Regions from separate parts of the Homo sapiens genome. Here regions 1 and 3 are each reported to be linked to region 2. The links are microRNA targets in miRTarBase. Many come from high-throughput screens and were not tested one by one. Region 2 holds a microRNA gene; each other region holds the end of a gene's coding sequence.

Region 1 (3,256 bases), not on the chromosome of region 2:
TTAAAGCCAGGATTAAATCTACTAGTCCTACATTGTAGCCTCCTCACGGTGTGCTGTGTTTGTTTTGTTTTTAAGAGTTCTGGGGAAATCCCCTGGAAAGACTCAATTAAAGAGCAGTGAAGAGAGTGCAGATCCCGTCACTGGAAGTTCAGAAAATGCAGTGTCATCTTCAGAACTGATGTCCCAGACTCCCAGTGAAGTTCTGGGTACCAACGAGAATGAGAAACTGAGCCCTACAAGTAATACCTCATATAGTTTAGAAAAAATCTCCAGTCTGGCCCCTCCTAGCATGGAGTACTGCGTTTTACTCTTCTGCTGTTGTATTTGTGGTTTTGAATCAACCAGCAAAGAAAACCTCTTGGATCATATGAAAGAGCACGAGGGTGAAATTGTAAACATCATCCTGAATAAGGACCACAATACAGCTCTAAACACAAATTAGGTGGAATAATGACTCGAGCAGGAAAGCAGTAGAAGAGGATTCCTTCACCACAGTTTCACCTTTACGCTGTCAGACAACTTCCTGCCACAGAAGAAGTCGTTGATGTGATTTTTGAGGAAATGACAGATGTGACTTTGGAACCAAACTTGTAATAAAAGGAATTCCAAATGGACAAGCAGTAATGATATTTAAATATTTTGAGTGAGGGGGAGTGGGTCAAAGAGGAAGTAGAGGTGTAATCCTGTATTAACCCTCTGTCACCCCTTCTTAGTGTCGAGTGTATTTATTAATAAAAGCTTATTAGAGTGTAGAAATGCCAGCAAGAGTTAAGAAAGGGCTTTTCAGGAACTATTCTAAAAGTCATAAAAGGGTCACAGTCTTAAGCAGAGCTTAGTTTTCTTCTCACTTGTCAAATGCAGACTGTGAGGCCTCCAGTGAGAAATGGGAGGCAGTTCTGGGAGGGGGTTTTTTCAGTGTCACCAACAGAGTCAACAAGGAAACATAATTAGAGGGCTTTGAAATGATCTACTGAAATACCTAAATTGATAGAAATTAATCATACTCAATCTAGGACATGTTCCTTTACTCCTTAAAAAAGAAAGGAAAGATCTCTAAATTCAAAGCTAGATTGTAAATAGGCATTCAAGAAGTATTGTCTTAAATTTACGATGAATTTCTTGTGAGCAGAGGACGAAACAGGTGAATTCTCACCAGACTCAAACCAGATCTCAATTCGTAGTAATGCTAAATCGTCTTCCGTGTTCTCAGAGGTTCTTTTCAGTGTCTGTCAGAACTTGGCATACTTTCTCCATAGTACGTAGACCTTCTAATACTCTGCTAAATGAAACCACACTTGTTATCTGAAAGTGTGTGAAAGAAACAATGTATGAAAATTTACATTTGATCATCCGGCATTGGAAATAGTTTGAACTATTTCCAAAAATCCCTTAGGGGATGAGGGGTGAAATTTAAAAGCTCCTGAAAATGAGTACTGCTGTGTTGAGCTTTTCTTTCCTGGGGTATATTAATTTAGTTATATTTAGCAGAAGAGGAATATAACCAAATGTGACTAAAATATAGCAGAAATTCAGGTTGTTTGTAAAAATTTTAATAACAAATAGCATTTGGCAAGTCTATAGGATTCTTCCTATCTGGAAATTCTATTTTGTTAGAGTGCGATAGGACATATGGAAAACCAACACAAAGTGCTTTAGCATTAAAACTCACCATCAAATAGATGTAATCTTATTAATTACACATTTTGTATTTTAATTATTTCAAGGAGTGAAGAAAACAGGGTGTTTTTGTTTTTGTAGTTCTGATTACTCATTTATGCATTGTTTTGTTTAAGTAAATTCTGCCTACAAGTGAAAAGGTCGGTGCGCTCTTCTGTGCACCATCCTCACGGTGCTATTTCCGAATATCTGAATATTGATTTCTAACACCTGGATGAGGCTGTGACCGATCAACTTGGAACACTGTAAAGGTTTTCGAATGGGATACGCTGTAGGCACGTTTTAAGAAGTATTCTGTTCCTAAAGTCCAGGTATGATTGGATTAATATTTATAAAATTATTATTAGGAATTATTTAAGTGGGGCCAGGCATCTTGCAACATTTTCTGATTTTTTTTTCTTTCTTTCTAATCTCATTTTGGTGATATTTAAACAAACATAAATGATTGTAACTTTGCAGCTTTTTTATTTAGGTAGCTTTAATTTATTTATGAAAGTTAATCCATTTCTGATACGTGGTTTTTAAAAATATGAAATGGATTTATATATACTATATTCCTCAAATCCACTGTATGTGGACTTATATTCATTTTCTCCTTTTTTCGGAATTGAAACATTTTAATTTCAAATTCAAATAGAACATTTAAAATGATTTCATTATTATTACCCATACTGTTGCCACTCATATTGTAAGTCAGTTTTTTCATTGCTGGTACAATGACTCAGTATTTCTTTATAAAAATCTGTTGTTCTGAAAATCAACAACCTTAGAAGGATTTTGTCTTAGAAAATTTCCTTGGCTTTAGTTTTATATCATATTTAGAAAATAATAATGAAAAGCATCCCCAAAATTTCAATGATGTGAATTTTTAAATTACCTTTATTTCTTTAAACTAATTCCATTGATTGTTACTTAAATTTTCCACCTGGAATCATGGATTTAAAATTTCCCCACCTCATGGGGAAAAAACTAACCCAGAAGTTCAAAGCCTTTAAAGTTTCATCTGATTCTGGCCTTAGAATTGTCCTTAAAAGCTTTCTCCTGGCCGATAGGAGGAAGCATATATCAAGGAGGTTCTTTCCCTTCCCATTATCATTTTGTGGCAAGCCTTAAGTTAACAATGTGTCTACCAAGAACAATTGAGTTTTCTAAAAGTAATAATGAAGATTATGCAATTCTAACTGTAGAAGAGATAGCTATTAAAATAATCAGTAGCCTGGGCATAGTGGCTCACACCTGTAATCCCAATACTTTAGAAGGCCAAGGCTGGAGGACTGCTTGAGTCCAGAAGTTTAAGACCAGCCTGGGCAACACGGGGAGACCCTGTCTCTACAAGAAATTAAAAATTAGCCAGGCATAGTTGGCACGTGCCTGTAGCACCAGCTACTTGGGAGGTTAAGGTGGGAGGATCACTTGAGCCTGGGAGATAGAGGCTTGCAGTGAGCCGTGATGGCACCATTGCACTCCAACCGGGGTGACAGATGAGGTCCTCTGTTTACCTCCCCCCCCAAAAAAAAAATTCAGTAGGAATTCCTTCATAGAATAACATGTTATTTATTGGTATTGACTTCTTATTAGA
Region 2 (3,256 bases):
GCGATAGAGCGAGACTCCGTCTCCAAAAGAAAAAAAAAAAAAAAAAAAAGCATAAGGCAGACACTACCAGCACTGCACCCTCATTAGCCAGCCAGCTTTGCAGACTCACCACCCCCACAGGCTGTCCTGGAGGTTCCTACGCCTGCAGTGGGAGCTAAGAGGTCAGCTGTTGCCCCAGAGCCGACCCCAGTAACCTTTGCAGCTTCCCTGAGGGCTTCAGGGACCTGCACCCTGTTTAGTGGGCACAGAGAAAATGGCTCATGTCCTGGAAATACCCAGCCTGGCTCCATTGGGCTGTAAGTAGTTCCTGGCAAAATTCCTCATTAGGTAACAATTTGGATGGTGGTGGAGATGTGTCCCTCCTACTTTACCCAAGAGGTGGTAGCGGTGTGGCCTGTGGGAATTTTGAGGGCAGCGGGCAAAAGTCATTCCAGTCCCAGGGCTCAGCTCCAGCAGCGCCCAGGGGCATCTCAGAAGCAGCTACATCATCATCTGTACCACCCCACGCCCTGTGCTTGTTTAGGGCTGAGATCCTATTGGGAGGCATTTGGGGAGGAGGTGAGCTGCGCTGGCAGAAGGTTCAGGGCCGGTCACTGGGGATTTTCCTGCCACTCACATCCCCTTCTTTCAAGTCTTCTTTAACTCTGCACAGATGGGAGTAACAGAAGATGCTGGTTTCCACCTCATCATTTTTTACCTTCTCACCCCCAGAAATTAATCTTCGCATAAACCTCAGGACCAGCACAATGCCTGTCTCAATAAAATGTTAGTTTCCTTTCCTTCTGTATCTCCTGCCTTCCCCTTCCTGGCCACCTAAGACACAGGGCCGTTATGTTGCGGTGCCCTACTTCGCAGCACCCCCAGACCTGCCCAGGGCTGCTCCCCATGCCAGAACCCTCCCTGTCCCCTAAGAACCTGACTATCCTTTGTTTCATTCCCTAAAAGCCTTACTTTTCAAGGCTGAGGCTGCAGCATCCTTTATACTGGTATACACTTTCATGTTTACAAGTGTCATTGGGCATCTACTGGTACTCATCTTAGTTACCCTTGTAACAGAGCCCTTAGATGTCAAACCAAAGCAGTGACTGACACTGAGATTTGTGGCTGCCTGGGTAGGTAGAGAAGAGAGAGAGAGTAGAGTTGACCATGTTTCTCAGCTCACAAGTTCCTATGATGGCTTGGAACCCTGACCAGCATTTTCTTCTGAAGCAACACCCTCGTGGTATGTTCAGCCTTTTTCTAGATCTCTCCAAGACAGAGAAATACTTGTTGCTCCTGCATTGAGGTTGGGCAGATGGGCATTACTGGGGCACTAGTGGCCAAGTTGCCCTGATCCACCCACCTGAGACCAGGTATGTGTGTGGTGGTGCAAGCCACTGCTTTTTCAGGCTGGTGCTGCTGGATGAGAAAGTCCCAAAGTTCTATCATTGAAGGAGCAGCACAAGAGTGAGGACAAATACCTTCACAGGCAGCAAGAAAGTGGTACACAGCAGGGAGGGCAGTGGGCACCTGGGGGAAGAGCAAGGCCCGAGGAGTGAGGGGAAGCAGGCCAACCTCGACGATCTCCTCAGCACCTGAACGCCAAGGCTGGGGAGATCCTCGAGGTTGGCCTGCTTTCCCTCCTTTTCTTACAACTTCTGGAGAAGCGTCAGCCCTCTGCAGGGAGGCGGCCAAGCTGGCAGGCGAGTCGGCGAGGGTGTCATTGCTTATATGGCTGCGGGGACCGAAGCTAGGAATAGACGCGCTGAGGGCTAGGAGGGCTCCGACCGGACGGAAGGATGCCGCATCGCGGGTCGCTGCCCGGAGCTGTGCGAGTTCGGTGCTCAGCCCCAACGGCGCTTTAGGCGGGTCCCCTAGGTTCTCGCCCTTGCGCGCGCAGCCAGGACAGTGTTTCTGCGCTTCCTGAGGCCAAAGCGGGTCTCCCCGTTTTTTCCTCTGGGGATGCCAAAAGCCACTGGAAAAGACAGGAAGCTGTCGCCCCGTCGCATTCTCAGCAAGATGAGGCCGAGTAGGCAGCGCCACCTCTCCCGAGCGCCCGCGCCCCGCTGCCCCAGCCGGGGAGGGACTGGAGGTGAAGTCGCAGGTGCGCTCCCCAGGGAATATCCGGGCTCGCAGACCACGCGGCACCGCCCCCGCCTCGCCCCGCTGCTCCTCCTCCCCCATTCCAGGTGTCTCCTTTTCCGCTTGCCCCTTAAACGTCCCCCTTCCGCAGGGGTCCTGCGAACCCCATCCACTGCCATGGCTCATTCTAACACCTTCACTGGGTGTCTTTTTGCATAACACTTAAAATAAAAATGGATCTGAATCTGATCCCGGCTTCCAGCTTACAGGACATGTCGAGGACAGAGGCACAAGTGAAAGTCCACCCAAGGAATGCAGTCAGCAAAGCCACGGTGTGGGGAGCTCTCTCCAGAGGGTAGGGGAGAAACCCAAAGAGTAAAAGAGACTTTAAAACCTGCCAACCAATCCCAACCTGATGTCCTAATTTGAATCCTGATTCAAATCAACTGCTTTTAATGGAAACTTAAAACTTTAGTGGAAATTTGAACCTGACTTGATATTTGATATAAGAAACCATAGTTAATTTTTTAAGGCATGATAATGGCATTGTGCTTATTTTTAAAGGATAGAGTCCTTATTTTTAGAAATTCAGACTGAAATATTTATGTCTGGAATTAGCTTCAAAATAACGCAGGGAGAAGTGGGTAAGGGTTGGGATGGAACAAGGTTGGCTATGATTTGATCGTTGTTGAGGCTGGGTAATGAAAACATGGGAGTTCGTTCTAGAATTATTTCTACTCTTGTATATTTTTAAAATTCTCTATAATAAGGTTTTAAAAAGAAGGAGAAAAAAAAATGGATATATTCCAGCTGATTAGTCTCAACGTTTTCAGGGCCACATACAAGTAGGGCCCTGAAAATATGTTAATTATGTGACTTAAGATCACCTGGGAGTCCTTTTCGTTACTGACTTGTGCGACTTGTGTGGCTCGTGTGCTCTCATGCTTAATTGGATTGGTCTTTAATCTGGGGCCAGGGAAGTGTTTGACCTGTGGCTGAGATTTCCACCTCTCTGCACTTCCCTTCCTGAACACCAACCAAAAGTGGCCCTGGGTTTCTAACCACCTGAAGATGACTTTCCATCTCCTCCAATGTCCTATGTCTAAAACTGTACAGCCTTATGCACTACCTCCTAACTTCCCCATTTCTATGAATAGCAGAGCATTTCCTCTGCCTCTGTCACAGACTAGAAGCC
Region 3 (3,256 bases), not on the chromosome of region 2:
TATGCTCCCTCTGGAAGCTCAGAAGAAGAAAGACTGTTTTCAAGTCAGCCTATACAAATATATCTTTGATGCCATGGTACAAGGAAAAGTGACCCCTGCTAGCCTAATCCACCACACAAAGTTGTGTCTAGAAAAGCCACTGGGGCCATCAGTGCTGAGGCATGCCCAGCAGGGAGGCTTCTCTGTGAAGTCTTTGGGTGACCTCATGGAACTTGTCTTCTTGTCTCTAACACTGTCAGACCTCCCAGTTATTGATATCTTGAAGATTGAGTATATCCACCAAGAGACTGCCACTGTGCTGGGTACTGAGATTGTAGCCTTCAAAGAGAAGGAGGTGAGAGCCAAGGTGCAGCATTATATGGCCTACTGGATGGGCCACCGAGAGCCCCAGGGAGTTGACGTGGAGGAGGCTTGGAAGTGCCGGACGTGTACCTATGCAGACATTTGTGAGTGGAGAAAGGGCAGTGGAGTGCTCAGCTCTACACTGGCGCCCCAAGTCAAAAAAGCCAAATGAATAGAAGGTATGCTTTCAAGAATGTTGATCCTTCCTGCTCCTGTTGTACCTAAGCAAAAGAGGACCAGTCTCTGAGCTTGGCTTTTATGGAGAGTGTTCTTATTTTGGTTCTTTTTTTTATTTCCACAACCTCTAACCACATTCAGTCCAGGACCAAGGCTCAGGGATGAGTGGGAGAGATGGGTTATACTGTCCCTGGAGCTTCATCATGATTGCCTGAGAAGACAGATGCTCATCATGGCTGGAATGAAGGTATCCTTCAGTAAACTTTGCTTTCCTAAGAAAATTCTTCAGTTTCTGATAAGTCATCCCTATTTTTATCTTGATCAAGGCTTTCTACAGTTACATAATAAAATGAAATGCTGTCCAGGACAGTTGAACTGATGGTTTTTTCATAACTGCAGTCCTTCAAAGATGACCACCATATATAGTTGTGTACGTGTTATTCCAAGCCTTTAAATATATACATAAACATATTTTGGAATCAGAATGAGCAGACCAAAACATAAACAATAAATATTCTCAAAGAGACAAGGGAAGATGAAGTAGAAACAGGAAGTCATAAATATTAGATACGAAAAACATAATACATGGCTGGGTGCGGTGGCACATGCCTGTAATCCCAGCACTTTGGGAAGCTGAGATGGGTGGATCACCTGAGCTCAGGAGTTCAAGAGCAACCTGACCAATACGGTGAAAGCCCGTCTCTACTAAAAATACAAAAATTAGCCTGGGGTGGTGGCGTGCGCCTGTAGTCCCAGCTACTTGGGAGGCTGAGAGAGGAGAATAGCTTGAACCTGAGAGGCAGAGGTTACAGTGAGCTGAGATCATGCCACTGCACTCCAGCCTGGGCAACAGAGTGAGACTCTGTCTTAAAAAAAAAAAAAAAAGAAAAATAATACATGAAGTAACATGTAACATTCACATATTGCAATCCAGCAGTAGCACTCCTGGGTATATGCTGGAAGAAACCTACATGTGCAATAGAAAATGTGAACATGAATATACTTTGTAGCACTTTCACAATAGCAGAAGCCTAGAAGCTACCCAGGTGCCCATCAGCAGAAGAGTGGAAAATGTACAGTAGCCAAAACAAATGAGCTACAGTGACATAAAACAATATGCATGAATATTAGCAGCACAACATTTGGTGAAAAAAGTCCTGAAAATTACATACAGCATGATACCCTTTTTATAAGGTGAAAAATAACATTTAAAGGAAAATGTAAAGGTAGTGGAGAGGAATCCCAAGCCATCTTAGAAGGCAGTGGAGCTCTTAACTACAAACATCATCAAAGCAGCTAGAGGAAGGATGATACGGACGTCACCTGGAAGATAAGGACTTGCTTGTGACACTACTGGAGAATTTGCAGAAGTCAATGCATGGGGAGGGCAATTGGCAGGGGTAGAGTTTCTGTATTAACTGGAACATTAAGAGCCAACAGAACATGGTGAATGTTGTTAGTATGATTCCATGTTATACATGAGCTGGTAAATCCTGGACATCTGTAGGAGATAAGGTAGGTTGTCTCTGGAGGCCCTTCTTCACATACTCTTCTTATGGACCCTGGAATCTTATGATGACTCTTCACTGAGTGACTCTTATGGCCAGGCACTGTGCTAAGCACATTATAATTAAATCTGTATCCATTATCTCCAGTGAGGGAACTGAGGCCTAGAAGGGTTATATAATTTTCTCAGCTGGGTGTGGTAGCTCACACCTGTAATCTTAGTACTTTGGGAGGGGAAGGTAGGAAGATCACTTGAGGACAGGAGTTCAAGACCAGCCTGGGCAACATAGCAAGACCCCATCTCAAAAAAAAAAAAAAGCCAGGCATGGTGGTGCATCCCTGTAGTCCTAGCTACTTGGCAGGCTGAGGCAGGAGGATCACTTGAACCCAAGAATTCAAGGTTACAGTGAGCTATGATCATGCAACTGCAAAAAAAAAAAAAAGTTTCCAGGGTTCCACTGTTTGAAAGTGGTAGACTCCAGGCTAGATATGTCTGACGGCAGTGCTTATGCTCTCAATCATTATGCTATTAAAGTTTTCTTGTTGAACATCCTGGACTGTATGTTATTATAGGCCCTAGTAAGTTTAGAGTTAAATGAACCTAAATTCACTGGACCTATGGGATAAATGGTATTAAGCTAATAGTCTTCAAGAAAAGAACTTGCTCAAGTTCTATAGCATCATCTTAGTTATACTAGAAGTTTTAAGAACAGGAAAAAGGGCTGGGCGTGGTGGCTCACCTGTAATCGCAGCACTTTGGGAGGCTGAGGTGGGCGAATCACCTGAGGTCAGGAGTTGAAGACCAGCCTGGCCAACATGGTGAAACCCTATCTCTACTAAAAACACAAAAATTAGCTGGGTATGGTGGTACACACTTGTAATCCAAGCTACTCGGGAGGCTGAGGCAGGAGAATCGCTTGAACCCAGAAGGCAGAGGTTGCAGTGAGCCGAGATCACACCACTGCACTCCAGCCTGGGCGACAGAGTAAAACTCTGTCTAAAAAAAAAAAAAAAAATTTGCCGGGCGCGGTGGCTCACGCCTGTAATCCCAGCACTTTGGGAGGCCGAGGCGGGCGGATCACCAGGTCAGGAGATTGAGACCATCCTGGCTAACACGGTGAAACCCCAACTCTACTAAAAATACAAAAAATTAGCCGGGCGAGGTTGAGGCGTCTGTAGACCCAGCTGCTCGGGAGGCTGAGGCAGGAGAATGGCGTGAACCTGGGAGGTG

The links. The annotated mature microRNA hsa-miR-3150a-5p reads CAACCUCGACGAUCUCCUCAGC and lies in region 2 at 1,551-1,572, shown strand. An mRNA with a match to its seed (bases 2 to 7 or 8) in the 3' UTR can be bound and repressed. Matches are read on the target gene's strand: a 7mer-m8 pairs with bases 2 to 8, a 7mer-A1 pairs with bases 2 to 7 and ends in A, and an 8mer does both.
Region 1: miRTarBase lists ZNF507 as a target of hsa-miR-3150a-5p. Seed matches in the 3' UTR shown: 7mer-A1 at 3,069-3,075.
Region 3: miRTarBase lists EXO5 as a target of hsa-miR-3150a-5p. The part of its 3' UTR that is shown has no 7-base or 8-base seed match.

What each region holds. Positions count from the first base shown.
Region 1 is chr19:32,382,642-32,385,897 of GRCh38, forward strand. It overlaps ZNF507 (zinc finger protein 507), which reads left to right. Exons shown (of 7, transcript NM_001136156.2): 7 at 76-3,256. The coding sequence ends at 442. Among named protein-coding and RNA genes, the nearest start is that of DPY19L3-DT, 21 kb to the right of the region's middle.
Region 2 is chr8:95,071,375-95,074,630 of GRCh38, forward strand. MIR3150A (microRNA 3150a) reads left to right here and starts at 1,540; the gene lies at 1,540-1,619. MIR3150BHG (MIR3150B host gene) reads right to left here and starts at 1,808. Exons shown (of 2, transcript NR_132986.1): 1 at 1,555-1,808. It overlaps MIR3150B (microRNA 3150b), which reads right to left and starts at 1,622; the gene lies at 1,537-1,622. LOC124901980 (a long non-coding RNA gene) reads right to left here and starts at 879. Exons shown (of 2, transcript XR_007061013.1): 1 at 372-879. It also overlaps a transcript of NDUFAF6 not described here. RefSeq lists a silencer at 2,015-2,114.
Region 3 is chr1:40,515,153-40,518,408 of GRCh38, forward strand. It overlaps EXO5 (exonuclease 5), which reads left to right. Exons shown (of 4, transcript NM_001346953.2): 4 at 1-886. The coding sequence ends at 514. Among named protein-coding and RNA genes, the nearest start is that of EXO5, 8.0 kb to the left of the region's middle.